Homo sapiens: one gene and its partner. The protein of the gene in region 2 purifies or fractionates together with the protein of the main gene of each other region. This does not show direct contact. Each region holds a gene or a part of one and is shown on either strand. Other genes may lie near its edges.

Region 1 (3,748 bases), on a different chromosome or scaffold from region 2:
TATCAATAACTCTGATTACAAAAATAAGCCGAGTAGAATGATACTTACAAAATTTCCAGAATCAAAAATTCCATCTTCTACTGGATGAGTAAGGTCCAAATTAAACCTCCAGGTTGACCTCTTGGGCTTCCTGTCTTTCTGCTACATAAATGAGAAATAATTATGTAGCTATATAAAACAACTTATTCAATTTATATAAACAATTTTAAAGTTTGTACCAATGCAATCTGTACAATGTACTGTTAGGTTACATATACAGAAATGTAACAATAAATAAAAAAACACCACCACTACCCACGCCGGGGTTGATTTGAACCTCTAACCAAGTCCTAATATGTTCAAGTTGTCAAAAAGTTACGGACTTTCATTGTTTTCTATACTACCAATGATCAATTTTAAATTATCGTGCTTTTCTGCCACCCCACTGCAGATGGGAATAGGTTAGTATACTGCCTAGCCCAAGCTCAGGTAAGTGCCAGAGCTAGGATTCCACCCACCTATGTCTAGAAAATTCAATTCTTACGTTATTATAGGCAAGGGAAGGGGACTTTGGTAAAAAAAAAAAAAAAGAAAAGAAAAGAAAAAGAAAAAATAAAAATAAAAAAGGCAAGGTGCCGTCCCAGCACTTTGGGAGGCTGAGGCAGGAGGATCACGTGAGGTCAGGAGTTCAAGGCCAGCCTGGCCAACATGGTGAAACCCCATCTCTAGTAAAAATACAAAAATTAGCCAGGTGTGGTGGTGCATGCTTATAATCCTAGCTATTCAGGAGGCTGAGTCGGGAGGATTGCTTGAACCCGGGAGGCGGAGGTTGTAGTGAGCCTGATCATGCCACTATACTCCCACCTGGGCAACAGACTCTGTCTCAAAAAAAAAAAAAAACCTAAAAACCAACACCGTGGAACTTAAATTTTCCATATCCAAACCTTTTATACCAAGACCATATAATATGGCTACATAAGCAAAATGTTACTGTGGCCAGCAACCATGTACATTCACTGCAATATGAACAAACAAATCTGTATTTATCAGACTATAACCTCCAATTTAGATTCACCCAAGTGGCTACCAAGTATTACACATTAGTTTGCTTTCTCAGGTAGCATGGTAACATGTGCCAAAAGATAATTACCCAGTTGGCGCAGAAGTTAATTTGGGAGACACAAACAACTTCTGTCTAATGGAACAGATAACCCTATAGGGTTTATGGCCATGCTGGGCATTACCCAGTTTTGTAGCTAGCCCAGCAATTTTATCCTAACTTTATTTGTAAATTGCGCATGTATATCTAGCTTTTCAGATATTCTTAGGAACATTTTAACATCTTACTGGTTCCCTTACTAATGACTTAAGTAAAACATCTGAAGCACGTTTATTTCACATTGCTGGAATCTAGACTTATACTTTTCTAAAAATTACTTCACCGAGAAACTTCTTCCCCAACTGAAAGTTCTCAAAAACTTGTGATGTCGGCCATCGCGGGAGCTGAGCGCCTAGGAGCTCCCTCTGGCCTGGCAAAGGTCGTCAGACCGGCCCGATTACCCACCATTCCCCTACCCAGTGCTGAGTGGCAAAAGCATTATCAGGCGCGAGATAGTAAAGAAATGGCTCAGATTGCAGTACCACCGGCCCATTTACAGTTGTGCCTCCCTCTTTCCCGCGTGTCCAAAACCACCCATCCTAAACCAATTCCGGGCCCAGCTCCAACTCCACTAGACCTCATGGCAGCTGCCAGGGAGTCTCGAAAAACAGTTCAGGATCCTCGCGTCTTGGTTGTGTTTCTGACCCAGACTTCACTACTCCCCTCCCTTTATCTTGACTGAGACGTCTCCACTCGACAGATGCAAAAATCGTTACAGCGGAAATCATTAAATTGCCACACAACACTCCCACCAAGACATCGCTCACTCACCGGCGCCATCTTGCGAGTCGGCCGCGAGAGCAGAGAGGAAGCTACGGCCGCGCGGTCTGCATTTATATCAAAGCGTGCTGCGTCACGCGCTGAGAGCGTCAGATTGTCGCCTCCCGGAAAAGAAAGCGGGAGGAGCGCTGAGGCCGGTAACCCAGGAAACCAGTGCGCTGCCGGACGAGAGTAGGCCATCGGCTTTCCGCGGGCACACGCGGGTGGCTGTGGTTGAACTGACTCTCGGGTTTCCGCTCCTGGCTGTTCAAGCCGATTAATTGCAGTGGCCTCTACAGTTACCTAGTGGCTGCTCCCGGATACGGACGCACGCGAGGGATGCAGGAGTCATCTTTCACTAATCACCGGAATCCCCTTTCCAATCAGGGCAAGGCAGTGTCTCAGGTTGCTTTGGGATCTCCTTTTATTGCAGTTATAATCCTCCAGCGAAAAAGTTATTTGTTTGTGTTTTGTCTGTGAGCCTCGTTTTCTAAATGACTGTTGAGGGAAATTGGTGCTTCGGGGACCAGGTCCTCGGGAAAAAAAAATCATGTATATATATGCTTACACGCCCACGCCTGTAATCCCAGCACTTTGGGAGGCCGAGGCCGGAGAATCTCTTGAGCCCAGGAGTTCGAGACCACCCTTGGCAGCGTAGGCATAGGGAGAACCCGTCTCTACAAACAATTTTAAAAAAAATGGCCCGCGTGGTGGTGCGCGTCTGTACTCCCAGCCACTCGGGAGGCTGAGGCAGGAGCATCGCTTTACCTTGAGAGGCGGAAGTTGCAGTGAGTCGAGATCGAGCCACTGCACTCCAGCCTGGGTAACAGTGAGACTGTCTCAAAGGGAAAAACACGTAGTGCTTGCTTCTTGTTCATTCGTTTGGTATAATTTATCATGGGTTTTACAGTTAATCCCAGGTCTCTTGATTTCCATCCAAAATGCTCCCAGTTAAAATTCAATGAATGTTTGCTGTGACCTATCAGTATGTACAAGACACACGAGGGTGGAAGTGTCTTGCTGACAAAAGGAAAAAGTAGCTTTTGAGCTTTGAAGGATTGTAAATTGACATCAGATCCGAAAAGTGGCATGCTGAACCGCTTGGGTTTAGCAGTAATATGTTTTCGTGGAGATGAAATTATCATACCTAGGGGTAGGGGTAAGGGATGGGGTGGACTTTGTTGTTAATTTGAAGAATGACCCCAGAAAGTAAGAACTGTTCGTGGCCTTTATGCCAGCAAGTAGTTATCGTGGAAACTATGCTTTAATAGAGCATATGACTTGTAGAGTCTGAAGAGAGGCCCTGAATTCCTAGAAGAAATCCATTTCAACAAGATTTTTTAGTTGTCTGCCTTAAGAGCTACAATAATCACATTTCTCTTTCCAAACATTAAAGGGAGCAATTGGCATTTCCTCCTCAAGGGCTGCCTAAGCTGAGGGGCAGAAATGATTCTATTTTGCTTGTCTTTAGCAGTCTTCCATGTCTTGACAATAAACTCCTTAAGCACTATTAAGCCATTTGTACAAGGAGGATATGGAAACATACCTGTTTCACAAGAACTAGTAATCACCAAATAACTAGTTAGAAACTGTAATGGGGGAAAAATGTTTGTCAATTAGAAAAAAAAACAAGAATATTAGCGAGAAATGTGCAGATGGGAAGACTAAAAGTTGTAAATAATTCAGTTCTTCCCAAACTGTGCGTGTGCACACGTATATAGTAACACAATGCTAGTCAATACCCTATAGTTATTTTTTAAAAATTTGACAGCTAATTAAAAAAATTTTAACATTTATTTTAGATTCAGAGGGTACATGTACAGTTTTGTTACATGAATATATATAATGATG
Region 2 (3,748 bases):
ATGCATGCACAAACACACATATACATATACACACGTGCACACATGCGTGCACACACATACACACAAGTGCACAAACGCGCACACACACATACACATGCAAACATGCACACAAACACAAATACACATATACACATACAGGTGTGCACACATGCACACAGGAATACATATGCACACACATTGCGTGCACACACACGTGCCCGCGCACACACACCTGTGTGCGCATATAAACACACACCGGTGCACACACATACACAAACACACTCGTGTGGAGACACACACATGCACACATACATGTGCCCACACATACACGTGCACACATGCATACACAAACGTGCGCGCGTGCACACACAGATTAGTGAGACTCAATTTCCTTGGGGAGAGCCTTGGTAGCCACTGGGGCCCATGGGGAGCACGCATCTTGTCATGGCTCTGGTGGCCATTCCAGGGCAGATACTAGGGACCAGGAAGAGGAACGGGACAAAGGTGAGGAGAAAGATTAAAAATTTAGTCAAGTTAGGATCCAGTGAGTCAGTCACTTATCTGGGAACTGACCAGGGAAATGAACTCTTCCTCTTCCACCCTAAACCCCAACCCTGACCATTAAGTACATGATACACCATCAATAACTAATTCATTCCACCAAAGATGACAAATGTTGTTTTGGGGTTCCAGGACGGACAGGCTAGCAGTGGTGTAGGGGAGGGGCCTGGAGTAAGAGGTATGGGTTTCAGTCCCCACATTGACTAACTCAGTGACCGTGAGCCTCAGCGTTTTTCTTCCTCTGGGAGAAAAAAAAAAAAAGTATTGTTTTTGAGATCTCTGCAGTTTCAAGATCTTAGGGACGAAACTAATTTGGAGCATGTTTCTGTCATGCACATCTCTCCCCTCATCAGGACTTGGGGTTTCCTAACCATATTGAGTAGTTCAGCCCCCTCCCTCGCCGTGTTCTGCGGTGTTCTCTTCCTCACACCCTCGCCCCGCTCCGCCCCGCACTCCGGCTGTTTTTTGATGGTCTTAGCTCGGGCACGGAGAGGAGGGAACCTCGCTTGTTCTCCCAATCATCTCTATTCCAGCGCTGATTCCTGGGACACCTCGAGCAGGCAGCCACACCCAGAGGGCTTCCAAATTTGGGCTGGTGAGAAGGGGCGCGGTGGGCAAAGCGCCTGCGTAAAAGTTGTAGGCACTTCAGACCACCGGACCAACGGCTCAAGATTGGGATCAGCTGTAGCCGTGGGTTCGCTCGTGCCCGTTCTTTCCAACTCCAGGGCTTCTAGGTGATGAAGGCGGGAGAGGGTCCCTGGTCCCCGGAGAGGCAGGGCGACTTGGGAGTGCATACCTGGCGTGCCGAGAGCGCCTCTGCTCCCGCAGGACTCACGGCGCTCCCGCGCTCCCAACAGCCTTTCGAGCAGGCTGGGGGTTGAACCGGGTTCAAGCAGTGGACGCTACAGCTCCCGGGCGCAGCCCCCGGGGTCCCCGCCCCCACTCCGTCCCAGCCCAGCACGCTCTACATCCCCAAAACCACAGCCCCGAGGGCAGTCACTGTCTCCCGACCCGTCCCCCGCGTGCCCCACTCCTCAAAGCCAGAATTCCGGAGACGCTGTCCCTGGAGCCACGCTGCACTCTCCAAGACGCCCAGCACACACCGAGACTTGACGGGCTCTGTCCCGCCTGATTACGGGCGCTCGGGACGATCCAGGGACCCAGCGCCTCGCTCCCCGGGCGCGCCAGCAGCCGCGCCGCGCCCGGCCCGTACGAGGTGGGGTTGGGCGGGGCCGCCCGGGGCGGCAGGAGGACCCGTTAGCCTGCACGTCCTCGCATCGCTCCCCGCAAGAAGTCTTTGGGAACCCCCAGGCACTGTCGAGAGGCAGCCCCGCGCAGGACGAAGCCTGGAGACCCCATAGGGACGCTCCCGCTTTCTCGCGAACCGCTTCGGGGAGGGGGTGGCGCGGGAAGCGCTCTTACTTGGTTTCAGGGATCCGCAGTGGCCGGGCTGGGACCGCGCTCTCCACGGTGGTCCCCCTCCGCTTCCGCCGCCGCTGAGCCCCTTTCTCGAGCAGAGGGGGCGGCTCTGGTCTCCGATGGCTGGAGAAAGCAAGCACCAAGCGTAGGTAGCCGCGCGCTGGAGTCGCGCGTTTACTCTTTTCCCCCTTACTTTTAACTAGAGGAGGATGGCAAACCCCTCCCCGGACCCACCCCCTTCCCCGAAGGCGGCCGCCGCAGCAGGCCCGGCCTCCGGCCTCTTTTGTTGTAATTCGAGAGCGGCCACTCCCAGGGCCAGAGGGAGCTCCGCGGGGGAGGCCAAGGCCTGCGGGGCAGCCCTTCCCAGGCTCCTCGCGCCCGGGTTTCCGGAGCCTGAGATGCCGGGAAGGGGGCCTTTCCTCGGGAGATTCCTCTACCCTTTCCTCCCTGCAGCCGTCCCAGAATTTAACCCTTCGATGTCCTTATCCACCAGCCTTAGGGCCCGTGCCTTGTCCACCTCCTATCCCGAAAACCCTGGCCCTCCTTGGCACATAATACACGCTCAATTAAAGCTGCCGAATGAAAGTGTTCAGAAACTTGCACCCATCTCGCCTGGGTTTCACCTCCCTTTTCCTGTAGGGGGAAAACCGATCCTGAACCAGTAAATAAACAGCCCCCTTTCGGCCAGCAGATCACGTCTATGGCCTTGGCCAAGCCTCTTCTCCGAGGACTAGTTTTCTTCTTTGTAAATTCAACGCTTTGGATTCCGTGACCTCTGGGGTCCTTCCTGGAATGGTAGGGCTGGGATTAACAAGCCCTGTGCTTGGGGACTGAACAGGACACAGCTAATGCGTGGCCATTGTGCAGAAGGACCTCCTGTGCCTGGCTCTGAGGCTCCGGGTGGGGGATGGGCATGCTGGGAGAGCCCTCTGCACAGAGAGGGCTCCTTAAGCAAGAGCAGGGCTTTGCCAGTCCCAAGGAGGCAGCGAGCTGCAAAACAAGGGACCCCTGTGCAGAAGTAGACTGTCACCTGAAAGGCGGCTCCTTCCTCAGTCCTCTCTTACTCCACTCCCTGAGGAGACAAACCCCTCCCAAATCTCACCTCCAGCCCAGGCTTCTCTCCTAAGCCATGGATATTTAAATCCATTGGCCCCGAAAGACTTTCACCTGGACATTCCCATGGCCGTAGCTAACCTGGCAAGCCCCAAACTTGGCACTGCAACTCACGGTCCACCTTGACTCCTGTGAGCTCTCCCAGGCAGATATGGGGTCTTCTCCGTTGCCTCCTCCTTACCCTCCCCACTGATCAGTCCCTGACTCTGGTGGGCAGTAGAGGGCAAGGGTCAGAGGAAGGGGGTGTAGTTATCAAAGGCAGGAGGAGGGATCTTTGTGGTGGTGGAACTATTCAGTGTCTTGAGATACAGAAAACCACACAGGTGATAAAATTGTATAGAACGTAATACACCCAATAAAATTTCAATTAAAAATTTAAAAAAATCCTCCGTGGCTCCAAGGTCCTCAAAATGTAATCTGAATCCTGGCTGGGTGCGGTGGCTCATGCCTGTAATCCCAGCACTTTGGGAGGCCGAGGCAGGCGGATCACAAGGTCAGGAGATCGAGACCATCCTGGCTAACATGGTGAAACCCCGTCTCTACTAAAAATACAAAAAATTAGCCGGGCGTGGTGGCGGGCGCCTGTAGTCCCAGCTACTCGGGAAGCTGAGGCAGGAGAATGGGGTGAACCCGGGAGGCGGAGCTTGCAGTGAGCCGAGATCCCGCCACTGCACTC

What was found. The genes of interacting proteins can lie anywhere in the genome.
Region 1: the proteins of LOXL2 (region 2) and RPL22L1 purify together in Homo sapiens (affinity purification with mass spectrometry; 2 studies listed by BioGRID). This does not show direct contact.

What each region holds. Positions count from the first base shown.
Region 1 is NC_000003.12:170,868,250-170,871,997, forward strand, and holds the start of RPL22L1 (ribosomal protein eL22-like), read right to left. Parts: upstream 1,947-3,748; 5' UTR 1,919-1,946; coding exon 1,910-1,918; intron 142-1,909; coding exon 49-141; intron 1-48.
Region 2 is NC_000008.11:23,401,992-23,405,739, forward strand, and holds the start of LOXL2 (lysyl oxidase homolog 2 precursor), read right to left. Parts: upstream 2,130-3,748; 5' UTR 1,963-2,129; intron 1-1,962. UniProt on the Homo sapiens protein: Mediates the post-translational oxidative deamination of lysine residues on target proteins leading to the formation of deaminated lysine (allysine).